Homo sapiens: one gene and its partner. The protein of the gene in region 2 interacts with the protein of the main gene of each other region in a pairwise test. Each region holds a gene or a part of one and is shown on either strand. Other genes may lie near its edges.

Region 1 (7,027 bases), on a different chromosome or scaffold from region 2:
ATACTCAAAGGAAATCATAAAATTTTAAATTCCACTTCTTCAAACAGTTATAGTTCTGAGCAACTTTCTGATTTTGCTTCACATTTTTTCAGAGACATCTAAAATTGAACATATATTCTCTATAATACACTGGAGGCTTACTGTATATAGGGTCTATAGTTGAGGCTGTCCTGTGGCGAAATGCTTTTGATGCTTTGGTCATGTCATTTTGTCAGTAGATTGGTAGACTTTAAAATGGGAACTTTGACAGCTGTTCCATATCACATTATGCTGTTCTGAAATTTCAGTATCTCTAATGGGAGTCCCTAACCAGTACATTGGAAGCCACTAATAGATCTCATAGTTTAGTCTAACAGATCAGTAGGTCAATTACAACTTATTCTGCATAAGGAGCAGAGAGCCATGGTGTCTCCTCACCTGCTTCTTTTGGTGACTTTATCTTTGCACCTATCAGTCTTCTGTTCCTCTACACTCAAACTCCTAATTATGTTTGATAACTTCCAGCATATAGTTGATTTTTAAAACTGGAGGTTGCTTTTTAAAGTAGTATTGTGACACCTGTAATCTTAGCACTTTGGGAGGCCGAGGCAGGAGGATCACTTGAGCTCAGGAGTTTGAGACCAGGCTGGGCAACATGGTGAAACCTCCATCTCTACAAAATTTTGTTTTAATTAGCCAGGCACAGTGGCATGTGCATGTAGTCCCAGCCACTTGAGAGGCTGAGGTGGGAGGATGGCTTGAGCCCAGGAGGCAGAGATTGCAGTGAGCCAAGATCATGCCACTCTACTCCAGCCTGGGTGACAGAACCAGATCCTGTCTCAGGAAAAAAAAAAGTAATTTCGTGTATAAAGCAATTTATAATGCCCAATGGTATTTATGTGCTTAATTTTTTTTCAGGGGGTAAACCAATTTCAGAAAGTCTTGAAAGTGTTAGATTGGCATGTATTCACACATCTCCCTTAAATCGTTTCAAATATATGTGGAAACTTCTAAGACAAGACCAAGTGAGTAATGAATGGATATAACCTGGTGCTTTCTAGTGAGTGATAAAATTTGTTTCTCAGTTCTGATGGCTTTCAGAAAACTTTCTTTTTAAAAGCAGTTTGCCAAAACGAAGTTAAGAATTATACAACTTTATTATTTTGGAATTTTAAAATTTTCATTATTTACTAGGACTAAACTTTACATAAGTCTAAGGGCCAGCTATAATCAGAACTTTAAAACGTCTATTTTACACAAAGTATTCCATTTCGGAAGGAAGGTTTTCATTGGCTTATATAGGAGTTGTATAATGATAGCAGTGGCTAACATTAATTAAGGGTTTATTAAGTGCCAGACATGACACTGAGTGCTAGAGCCTTTTTTCATCCATATAACAATTCTCTGAGGTAATCACTATCATTAAACCCATTTTTACAAGTAAGTAACTAACTTGTCCACAGTCACACAGGCAGGAAGTGGTAGGGTTGGGATTTGAAGTCTGGATTGTGTGACTGAAAATCCATGTAGATCATTAATTACTCAACTAGGCTAAGAGAGACAGTAACCCTCCTTTCCTTAAGGGAAATAAATTGTTTCCTGGTAAGTGTACATGAAAAATGTTGATACTTTGTTATTTTTTTCTTTTTAAATAGCAATCCATTATACTTGTAAATGATTCAGCAATCCTAGAAGTACGCAAGGAAAGTCACCCCTTGGCTTTCGAGTGTGACACACTGGATAATAATGAAATAGTAGCAACTATTAAATTCACAGTCTATACGAGCAGTGGTAAGTGTCCAGCAATGTCTTGGTTTGCTTATATGCCAATCTTTAAAGAGCATTAAAATCACTTAGAGGCTTGTTAAAACACCAGTCTCTAGCCCTCCCCCCAGAGTTTCTGATTCAGTAGATTTGGGATGGGACTGGAACAAGAATTTCCATTTCTAACAAGTTGCCCTGTTGCTGCTGGTCCAGAGACCACACTTTGAGAACCACTGGTTTACATCATTTAGACTTTTCTAAAAGATACTACTTAATTTCTTTTTCACAAAGTAGTCACAATTTCCTCACTTTGGGAAACTGGTGTATTTCTTAAGTGTTTTCAGAGAACAGTCCTCTAACTTGAATTATATTCTTGCTTTTACTTTCATTATAAAAGTGAAAATGGATAAATGGAATTCTCATGGATGCTTATGAAAATTTTCATTCAGTAAAGTAAATAAAATTAAGAAATACGATGTCAAAGTATGACTCTTTAAAAATTATATATTTGAAACAAATGTTTTTTGATGAAGCACTAATACAGTTCTCAAAAATGTATATATCACAAAATGCAAATGTTGTCCTGAATGTCATTTTATGTATTAGAAACCATATTTTCCTTGTGAGATAGATCCATTTGCCTATATTCAGTTTAATCTATGATGGCTTACATATCCAGGTAATTATTTCCTTTTGTTCAGCTGCTCTTAACTGTTCTAATTGTTGTTATCAAATTTGTTGTTAGGGATGTGGGGACTTGGTCACAAGTTCTTTTCAGAATCCTATCAAGGCTCAGGATCCTTTTTCCAGAAAAATGTCCACATACACAAATATGCCAAAAGTTGCATGTAACTTTAAAGGAGTTTTTGGACTTCTTGAAGCTATTTCTGAACACAAAGAGCTTCTGCTGTAGTTTAAAGATACCGCACAACGTAACCATTTTATTGAAATGAAAACAGGTTAAAATATTTTAGGGTGATTTTAAAAAATAAACTACTATTTAAACTTCCTTTGATATGCTGTTTAATGAGTTTAGAAACATCTTCATGGTGAAAGCTAATAATCTTATTCCTCTATTGGGATATCAGGTGTCGTTAAAAGGATCATTTTCAATAAAGCTCTAAAAAAGGCAAGAGAATAAAAACATCATTAAACTAAAAAATATCTCAACTAGCCCTCGTTCATGATATTAAAGGTGTGTGGAGCCATTCTCAGTCTTTGTCCTACTATCTCGTCCCTGTTAGGACAATTCAGTGTGGTTAACTCCTCTCATAATTAGAAGGGAGCATGCATTTGGTAATGTATATGTTAAAGGCTGGAGCACAGACCCTAAAATGTCAGGCCTTTATTGAGACAAAGTTAACTTCTCTCTCTCATAGCAGCAGTCCAGGAATGGTGGGATAGCTCTGCCATCTCAGTACGTGCACTGATTGAATGACAAAATATTTTAAAAACACTCCAGTATCTACTAATTTCTTTAAACATGACAATTGGGTACACCACTGCAACAGACCCCTTTGGCTGATTAGAAATCAAACAAATGTTTTGGCTAGAAATGTCTACACAATATGGTACTAGCATGAAACAAATATGTAATTGAGATATTTTTAGGGTAAATATGGTTTCCCTAGTGAAAAATTCTCATCCATTCACTTAAATATCAGATTTTTCACTCCCACAATAGTTGTCTTTCATAATTAGGCATTGTTAAAAAAGATACTTTGAAGTACTCAGAATGTGACTCTATTTGGAAATAGGACTTTTTACAGATGTAATTAGTTAAGATGAGGTTGTACTAGAGCAGAGTGGGCCTTTAATCCAATATAACTGGTGCCCTCATAAGAAGAGGAATATTTGGGCATGCTTGTGCGCACACACACACACACACACACACACACAAACACAGATGGAAAGTGGGGCGCGGAATGCCAGGTGAAGACACAGAGAAACAGACATAGGGAGAAGACAGCCATGTGAAAATGGAGACAAAAATTGGAGTTATGCTACCAGAATCCAAGGAATTTCTGAGCCTACCAGAAGCTGAGAAGCTGTAAGAGACAAGGAAGGATCCTCCCCAAGAACCTTCAGTGAGAGCATGGCTCGGCCAACACATTGTTTTCAGACTTCTAGCCTCCAAAACTGCGAGACAATACATTTCTGTTGTTTTCGTCACCCAGTTTGTGGTACTTTGTTATGGTGGTCCTAGGAAACTAATAAGTACATAAGCTTAGTTTATCTAAAAGGTGAGAGCATCAAATTTAGCCTATTTTTCATTAAATACTTCAATAGGAAATTGAGCCTATTTTTTTCATTACCTGTAAAAATAGTCTAGGTGACCCTTGCAAGACTACTGTTGTAATAAATAAAATCTTCATGCCCCTCACTCTCCACCCTCTCTCAGCTAACATTGCAGAGTAATGGATAAATGAAATTTGCATTTCTCCTTGTCAGGTGTCAGTTCTGAAAGGTGTTTTTTATTTAAGTTTCCAAAATGCCACCACTTGTGTAAATCTAAAGTTATTTTGAAATAAAAAGATTTTTAAAAATCCAACAATGTTGGAACGTAAATATAGATGTATTTTCTCTAGCATACTTGGAACTATTTAGCGAGATCCCTAACTTGAGTTTATAGCTCTAGAATTACTAGGCAAAATGGAAACTTATACTCCATGATGTCTAACAGATAGGGAAACAAATCCAGAAAAATAAGCAGTTGAGATTGCTCATATAGAAGACTAGTTCTGACAGAGTAGTACTTATCAAAATCAAAGTATTTAAATAGTCAAAATATACCTTGTACAAATTAAACCTCCCTGGGCCTTGGTTTACTTATCTGTATAATGCAATAGTTGGATCAGATGATCTCTGTAGTTCTTTCTTCCATGAATCTTTTATGATTCCAGAATTTGGGGTCATAAAAGAGATACAATAAAGCTATGTAATTCACAAAGTAAGTAATATTCTATGTTAATTGGCTTTTTACTAGTTTACAATGTAGCAATACTGTAATACATACGGTAGATTGGCTTTGTCTCTTTGATAACCTTATTTGCTGAAAGAGCAGAGAGACATGGGAGAGAATGCTTGAGGTAAGAGTGGTGCATGAGGTGGGTACAGTGGTGTGTGCCTATAATACTAGCTACTAGGGAGGCTGAGGTGGGAAGATCACTTGAGCCCAGGAGTTCAAGGCCAGCCTGGGCAATATAGCAAGACCCCATTTCCTAAAGAGAGAGGGGTCGGGGTATGTGGATATGTGTATAGAAAACAATGAGCTTCAATTCCTTTCTTACAGCAAATATAAAAATTAGAGAGGTATCATAGTCTTAAGTGTAAAAGCTAAACCCATAAAGTTTTAGGAAAGAAATATAGGAGACTATTTGCATGATTCAGGAGTAGGCAAACGTTTCTTAGACATAATTCAGAAAACAATCACCATAAAAGGAAACATTGAATAAATCAGACTGCATCAAAATTAAAAACTTCAGCTCATTAACAAAAATCATTAGGATAATGAATAGGCAAGCCAAAATCTGGTAGAAAACATTTATAAAACCTGTACAGTCAGTACAATCAGTTTGAGAAAGTTCTCATGGTTTCTTAGACAGCTAAACACACATCTGTCTACCCTACGACCCAGCAATTCTATTATTAGACATTTAGCCAAAAATTAAGATATATATTCACAAAATGACTTGTATAAGAATGTTCATGGCAGCTTTATTTATAGTATCTCACAACTGGAACAGCCTAGATATCCATCAGTAGGAGGATGAGTAAACAAATTGTGGAGTATACCTAGTAATAATAAAAAAATGATAGTTGCATATAACAGTATGGGTGAATTTCTAAAACATTATTCTAAGTAAACAAATCTTTACACAAGAGATTACCTAGTGTGTGTTTCAATTTATATGTAGTTCTAGAATAGTCAGAGCTAATCTATGGTGGAAAAGAAAATCAGGATGCTTGTTGCCTCTGGAGGATGAGGAAGGAGTTAATTAGGAAGAGGCTCAAGGGAACTTTCTGGGGTATAGTAATATTCTATATCTTGACTAACATTTAGTTACATATATGAGTTTGCCTTTGTCAAAACTAAGCAAATGTACATTTAAGATCTTTGTGCAATTCTTTGTGTGAAAATTTTATTTCAAAGAAAAAACTAATATTAAACTCCAGTTAACGATATGCTTGCTGAAAAATTTTTGAGGAAGTGTACTGACATTTGCAAATTATATTGAAATGCATAAAAATAAGATGGATTAATGAATTGATAGAGGAATGGATAGATGAATTTTAAAATATTAATGGTAGTATTTAGATGGTGGTAATACAGGCTGTTCGTTGTCAAATTCTTTTAACTTTTTTCATGTTTGAAAAGGACATTTCAAACATGCAGAGCAAGATCATTAATAATTTTCTCTGCACTAAGCATTTCTTTATGTTTCTAGAGTTGTTTTTCAAATATAAACTTTTAAGTTAGATATTCATTTCCTTTTCCTCAGTAGTAATACTCCTTAGGTTTGTGTGTTTTCTCTAGAATTGCAGATGAGAAGATCAAGCCTACCAGCCACTGATGCAGCCCTAATTTTTGTGCTGACCATAGGAGTCATTATCTGTGTATTTATAATTTTCTTATTGATCTTCATAATCATAAATTGGTAGGTGAATAGTGGAATGCATCATCACCCTTGATTGACATCCTCTTCTTCCCCCTCCTCATCCAGTGAATTGCAAAGCCCTGTCCGTGATGTCTCCTACATGTTGCCTTGAAACTGTCCATCGCCTTTCATTACTCCTGTGACTGCCCTAGTTCAGGCTGCCCCGTCTCTTTATGTAGATGCTTTTTAAAACAATCTCATGACTTGCTTCTCCAACTATGAGAGAGCTTTTAAATGCAACTTTTACAATTTTACACGGTAATTGCTTTAAAAAGTTTTATTTAATGAATATTTGTGTTGTCCAGTTGTGGTTCTCTCAACTCTAAAACTTGGTTATTGTAACCTACTAATTCATTTGTATGACAATATTTATAATACCTACATGAGTAGTACACCCTGGTAAGTCTGAGGGCTCATATACTATCGATTTGTAGCTGATGCATCGCAAACTAAAAATGAATAATGAATACAAAGGCACTTCTTAGAGAAGAGGTAATATATATGTTTTATATATATGTACATATATATGTACATATATTGTATATACAATATACATATATCTTCTATGTACATATAATGTATATACAATATACATATATCATATATAGGTCATATGTGTGTACCAA
Region 2 (7,027 bases):
GACTATATTTCTCAGCCTCTCTTGTAAATAGGTGTAGGTGTGACCATGTCACATTTCATTAAAAGAAAAGGAGATTCATTCTTCCCCACCTCCTTTCTCCACCCTACTGCTTGAATCATGGATGAGATGGCTGGAGCTCTAGCAGCCTTTTGTTTCCTGAAGATGACAGCCAAACCCAAGAGATGGCAAAGAAATGAGCTAGAAAGTGTCTGCATCTCTGACAATTTCATGGAACCTCCATACCTCTCTCAGGCTACCTACTTCCAGACTTCTTTGAAAAGAGAGAAAAATAAATGATCTTACTTAAGCCCCTATCATTTGAAGATGTTCTCTTATACACAATCAATCCTAATCCTAACCAGAACACTAGCCAACCAGTCTACCCCATCCCCTGCCTTGTTCTACCCTTACCTTAGGTCACAGGGAATATTCTCCTCCCCGTTGCCTGTATTGACTTAAATCCTGCCCATCCTTTGGAGGATGGATCAGATTCTACCTCCCACCAGAGATTTCCCATCCGCTTCCTCCCTGAACTCAGACGCTGTCTGCCTGCCTCCCTTTGGGCACCTGGCCTGCTCTGCCTTCCAAGGGAGTGATTCACCCTTCCATATCTATCTCCTGACTCTTCGACCAGGCTCGGGACCATCAAGGCAAGGCCCATGCATTCCAGATCCTTGTATTCCCTGGGCCGGAGAGGCACTGGATACAATATCATAACGAATATCCCCACACTAAGCCTCTCTTACCTCTGCCCACACGAGGCAGATAAGGAGGGGGTGCCAGAAAGTATACAAACACATTTAGAAAAACGAGAAGGCAGGCGGAGTCAAAGTCAGTTAGTTAAAAATCTAAAACTATTTCTAATATTAAGATGTAGCCTGGGGGCAAGATCTGGTGTGTCTCTTTCAAACTACACAACCTAGATGTTAGACTGCCTCATGGCACGATGCCAGGAGGCCCCATTCATGTAGAAAACAACATGAGTGGCAACCCCCAGAGAGAGGTGAAGTGTCATGGTCATGCACCAGAAAAATGAGTCCTTTCAGAAAAAAATACCAAGTCACATGGCGCAGTGGCTCACACCTCTAATCCCAGCACTTTGGGAGGTGAGGTGGGTGGATCTCCTGAGGTCAGGAGTTCGAGACCAGCCTGCCCAACATGATGAAACCCCTCTCTACTAAAAATACAAAAATTAGCCAGGCGTGGTGTTGGGCGCCTATAATCCCAGCTACTCGGGAGGCTGAGGCAGGAAAATCGCTTGAACCCAGGAGGTGGAGGTTGTAGTCAGCCGAGATTGCACCACTATTTATTTTTTCACACTTGCAACATATTCTTCACAAATCGATGTCAATAACAAATTACTTTTGATTACTTAACAAGTATTTTTTTTCAAATATACTTTCTAAGAGCAAATACAGACAAGTTAAATGGTTCGCAATGAGCATAGTTCATTTGTAAAGACAGTATAATGTTTTAAAAAGTACACATTTTTTTCAGCTTATTGTCTGCAGCCACAATTGTTAAACTCAATCAAAGAGGCCCTGGAGGATTCGCCACTTAAGGCTGAAGTCGTAGCAAGTGCTGCCACGTTGGGGAAGATAGCGGCAGAGATAACCACTACTGGGGAAGTGTAAATGGAAATTTCAAATTTAGATTAAGCCTGAGTGGCGTGAAAACAAACCCAGCATGTTCAGGTGCAGTGTCCAGATGTTTTCAAAATGCCCTGATTGTGAGAGCTGAGAAGGGAGATGTGGAAAACAGACACTCTGGGGTCCTCACGGAAAGCAACGAGGCAGATTTGAAACCCACACTAAGGAGGCATTGTAAATGAACTCAAGAACATGAGCTTGGCACAGAAGGAACAAGTTGAGAGATAAGAAGTTTCCTGATTAAAATAACCCTAGTGCCTCTTTGAGATCTGCTTCTAGCACCAACTGACAGCTATTTCCAACGGCAGAAGACACCAAATGTCAATCTGTAACATGCTACAGGTCAATATTGCTTTCTTTCCTGCAGATGGTTTAAGCACAACTTAGCAACTCCTCTGCCGCCTCGTTTCTGCTGAAACTTCGCCGGGTTTTAACACGCCTGCCAAAACTGCCCCCTTCCGGGCCCAAGAGTCCAGGATTCTGTGCCAAGCCGCGTGGCCAGATGCCACTTGGGGATGGCGCCTGTGAGCACCAAAGCCTGCCCTTTTCGGGCTGAGTCACTACTTGTAACCACCAGGTGTCAGTAGCGAGTACGGAGACTCCCATCCGGAGTGCTCCGGGAACTTCAGCCAGACCCTAAAGGGGGAGAAACCGGATGCTGTGGCTTTGGGGACAAGCAGTGCTACGGTCACATTCTCAGGCACTCATGAGTATTTCATTTACTCAGTTGCCAACTCACCATGCAAACCCACCACGTAATTTCTGGGATGGCTTTAATTCAATGCCTTTCACACACTCAGAGACAAGATTAAGCACTGTTCTCACTCCAATAGGACTGGGACCTTTTCTCTGCTCCCTCCCCAACCCAGAAGGTAAAAACATAAAGCAGGGTTTTCTACTCCTTGCGTATCTTCTCCATGTAAATTACCAAATTATTATTTTAGCAGTTTCTATTTGTACTGTGGTTCAAGGAATTTGGTTTATAATGCTTCAGCTGGGGACATGCTTGGGTATTACTGGGTACTGAGCTGTAAGAGGGAAAGTCCAGCAAAGCAACTGGATTATGCAAAGCCAGGACCAAAGGCCACTTCACTGCCTGTTTTACTGAACTGGATCTAAACTGGTTTCTCTCGTCTGGTGTAGCATCTTGAACATATATACTGGATCTATGAGTAGCTCCAGCAACATTTAAAGCTGTATTTCCGTGGCCTTTTAAACCCAGGATGTTAGGAAAGCTCTGCTGTATCTCTAGGTCCTTCCAGCCTGAGGACACATCTTCTGGAACAAAAGATCATGTGGATCCAGGTCCACGGGCTCTTAACATCAATCGCTATGGCCTACCCAGCCACCAAAACAGCTCATCCTGTTTACCTCCACCTGTCTGCATCCAAACACACAGGGCTCCTGGCTGGGTGTTCCTTTCCCTCTGGGTGCCTTGGGTACCTAGTTGGTGCTTCTGCTGCCAATTATCCCTTAATTTGACCCTCATGAAGCCTGGCTTCCATATCTCACAAGCAAAGATGCTGAGGACAGAGGAGAAATACGATCTTCTGGATTAAGGACCCCAAGGCTTAGCTTAGGGTTTTGCAAATAGCTTCAAGTCCCCATCTTGCAACAAGGAAACATTCAAAGGTTTTGATGCTAGGTGGCATCACTGAGGCCCAAGACCTGGAAAGGCAGCCAGTCTTGTGTCCATGTAACTGACGGTGCAGTGAGCTAGCCCCACTGTCACTGCAGCAGAAAGGGGCAGGACATTTCTGAATAGAGACAGCCACCAAACCAAAGATACACGTTTGATCCAATGTCCCAAGGGGGTCTGCCAAAGGCTTAGCTATCATACCACCTTCACAGCTCCCAGGTCGATATTTTTTTCAATCACAAAAAGCATTATCCTAAGTGATCAGGAGGGCACTAAGGGCATGTCTCTAGGTAGAGTGAATCACAATGATGCCCAGGATCTCAGCTTCCCCAGCGAGATCACCACCCCTCCCATTTTCCCTGGACTCATGGCTCCCTGTCACATCCCACCCCACCCCAGCAACGACATTCTGGCTTGTGTCTTCCAATAAGCGTTTCCAGCTCTGGGCTGAGAAACGTGTTACAGGCGTCTGAGGACAAGCTCATGGAGCACAAAACCAGCCTCACCGTTTGGTGATGATGAGAAACAGTGGTGGACATTTCCTGAGGAAGAGGTGCTACAGTTCTGCCAGAGATCAGTTGCGTGTCCATTGCCCACGATCCATTGCTAGAGAGAATCAGATAGATATCCTGAGTCAGGGAGGGAGGGAGGAGTGAAGGAAAAGGGGAAGGAGAAAGGCCCAGGGATGGCGAAAAGCACCCGCATCCACCTAGCCACACCGCCCACCCCTGCATGGTAAGAGCCAACGTTTTATGACTTAAAAGCACCTTGTAAATGGAGAAGTTCCACATGCACACAGAAACGATTATGTGCAGAGATGTTTACTATAGTAGAAGGAGCCATGAACTCAACCTTAGACACCTGCATTCAAGCCTTCTCTCCTCCCAGCATCTCGGGATCATTCCCCAAGCCCGCCTCTCTCAGTCTATTTCCTTGTTTATAGCTCCTATCAGTCTGATATCATCATCACCAGGCACAATGGAGATACTGTGAAGATGCTTGTAAATGTTAAACTAAGTCACAAATCCCCAACATAATTATTTCTCACAGAGACTAGAAAATCATGCTTACAGGCCGGGCACGGTGGCTCACACCTGTAATCCCAGCACTTTGGGAGGCAGAGGTGGGCGGATCATGAGGTCAGGAGTTTGAGACAAGCCTGGCCAACATAGTGAAACCCCGTCTCTACTAAAAATACAAAAAAAAAAAAAATTAGCCAGGCGTGGTGGCGGGCACCTGTAATCCCAGGCTGAGGCAGGAGAATGGCTTGAACCCGGAAGGCAGAGGTTGCAGTAAGCCAAGATCATGGCACTGCACTCCAGCCCGGGTGACAGGCTGGAGACTCCATCTCAAAAAAAAAAAAAAAAAGAAAAGAAAAGAAAAGAAAACGAAAAAGAAAATCATGCTTACAATGTGCCTTAAATTAAGAAGTGAAAGCCACCACTGGAAAACTGCCTGAATGTCTGCTCATCTTCATCGCCAAGAAAATAACTTTAAGATCTAATGGGCTGGACAGTTTTGTAACAGAAGTTACTCTGATGGCCTGTTCCTACCAGTGGAAGCTTTACTAACAATGTGTTGTGTTCATGCCATAAAGCCGACATGGGACCTGTGAACTCTTTTCCAGAAAAGCCCATTTTAACTTTCCAATTTCAAGTCCTAAAAGGGTGTTTTATAAATTAATTCACCCATCTGACTATGGTTTGGAGAAAAAAAAATCATAAATACTCCTCTTCTTCAACGAGGCTGCATCAAGAAAAAAAAAAGTTAAACAATCTTGTCAAATGAAGGTCGGGGACCCTAGATCGGCTCTGAAGTTACTTGGCTTAAATAGAGACCTGCGCAGCTAACCCAGCCCAGCGCTCGCTTGGTTCCTATCACTGAATCTGCTCTCGTTTTCTCAAAGCAACTGGAAGGGGGCAGATTGCCAGAAACTTCCCTGGGACGTCTGAGACTTCCAACTGTCTGCAAATAACACAGTCCTGAACCAGCAGGAGCACGGGCTGGGAACCCAGATGGGGAAGGGCGGGCCGCGCAGGGAGCCTCCCCGCCAGGCACTCACGCTGACGATCGTGGAGACGAACAGCAGCACCAGCACCGCGACGTGGAGGACGATGATACTCAGCAACAGGAGGAGCATTCTGGCGGCAAGTTCTGCTCAGCGGAGTTTCTGCCTGCGAGGAGAGCGCTGGGCGTGAGGCCGAACGCACTGGGCCGAGCGACGGAGGCGCGCGCAGAGGGAGGGTCCCGCGCACTAGCGGAAGGCCCGGCCTGGCCCAGCGCCCGCAGCCCGACCGCCCGCGCGGGTCAGGAGCCTTCGCGCCGCCTGCCGCCGAGAGGGGGCAGCAGCCGCCTGCAGGACCAGCGCCCAGTGCCCAGCGCCCAGCCGGGCCCGCCTGCAACGGAACATCTTTTGCTTTTGGAAACAAAACAAGCGGTTCGCACGTCTAAAACCACCCAGGGAACGGAGGGGTTTCCAGAAAATATGAGCAGAGGCCACTGCACGCTTCCACCCACCCCAAGCACCTCCCGGCGACCTCCCTGGAAGGTGAGAGGTCACGTTCTCCGAGACCCCGGTTCAGATGGTGAATTCCCCTATGGGGTGGAGGTAGGGGTGAGGGGAGTAGGTGCCCAGATTTCCGTCTGAGACCTGGAGACAGCCGTGGCATGCGGTGGGGGAGACAGCGGCGAGGAGGCTGGTTTCCCAGACCCCAGTGCTCTCCGCATTCCGTTTGTCTCCAAGTTTCCACCCAACTCTGCCAGCGTAGAGGAACGGTCCTGGCCCCAGCTCAGCCTCGCGCAGACTCTGGCGGCTCCGGAGAGGTGGTGCAGAGCCAGAGTAGTGTGGAAAGAAAAGAATGGCTCGAGAGGGTTGCCCGGACCCTGCGCTTCCCGTCCACCGCGCGCTTCCCCAGGCAGCCCCTGGGGTCAGGGGGCATTCTGCTCTTGCGCTAGACCCACGTGCTCGCCTAGGGGTCCAGTCTGCACCCCAGGCACTCAAAGCCAGGACACGAACCCCAACAAGCCTGAGCTCCGGTCTGGGTGCGGTGGGACAGGAGCCCAGGAGCCTGGACCGAAGGGAGTAGATGTCCAGCGGACGGGAGAGAGAGACAGAGGGTAAAAGGCTGAGTCCGAGAATTTCAGCCGGTCAGAGCCGGCAGGACATTTATCCCAAGTAATGCGGTCCTCGCCCCTCATTTTAAACTTTGGGGGAACTGAAGGCTGGGATGACCTGTTAGAGGACATGCATGGCTGTGAAAGATCTGGCTGAGACTCTGGGGACCATTTTAGGCAGAGTCTTGGGCCAGGGAGACAACGTTTCAATAACCCAGTTTGGAAAGTACCCAATCCCAGGCCCCTCTGTTCCTCTCCACAAGCATCACATTCAAAGAAACTCTGGAATGCACTGGAAGAAATAAACAAGGATTTCTGATGACTCCCAGAGGGTTTGAATTAAGCCGATGGCAGGAGGCTGGGAACTGGGGAACCACAGGAGTCCAACACTCTCGGGATGTCCGCCACAGGGACTGTTTTGCCAGTGTGTCCCAGAGTCAACGCCTCTTCAGCAAGGCGAGAACTGGGCCGCCCTTATCCGCTATCCAGACACCAGCACCATCACCCTTGCCCTGTAAGGTCTTATAGACCATAAAGGCTCTCCTCGTTGTATTACTCCAAGACCCATTGGAGGGAAACAGGACACACAGGGGACCCTGTGCCCCTAAACAGAAGCCCCAGGGAG

The links. The genes of interacting proteins can lie anywhere in the genome.
Region 1: the proteins of PMP22 (region 2) and SPACA1 interact in binary tests that used the Homo sapiens proteins (3 or more experiments, as listed by UniProt).

The regions. Positions count from the first base shown.
Region 1 is NC_000006.12:88,057,819-88,064,845, forward strand, and holds part of SPACA1 (sperm acrosome membrane-associated protein 1 precursor), read left to right. Parts: intron 1-897; coding exon 898-1,004; intron 1,005-1,634; coding exon 1,635-1,770; intron 1,771-6,261; coding exon of another isoform or gene 6,262-6,280; coding exon 6,281-6,401; intron 6,402-7,027. UniProt on the Homo sapiens protein: Plays a role in acrosome formation and establishment of normal sperm morphology during spermatogenesis. Important for male fertility.
Region 2 is NC_000017.11:15,255,300-15,262,326, forward strand, and holds part of PMP22 (peripheral myelin protein 22), read right to left. Parts: intron 5,837-7,027; exon of another isoform or gene 5,660-5,836; intron 5,522-5,659; exon of another isoform or gene 5,463-5,521; 5' UTR 5,429-5,462; coding exon 5,351-5,428; intron 3,895-5,350; coding exon 3,795-3,894; intron 1-3,794. UniProt on the Homo sapiens protein: Might be involved in growth regulation, and in myelinization in the peripheral nervous system.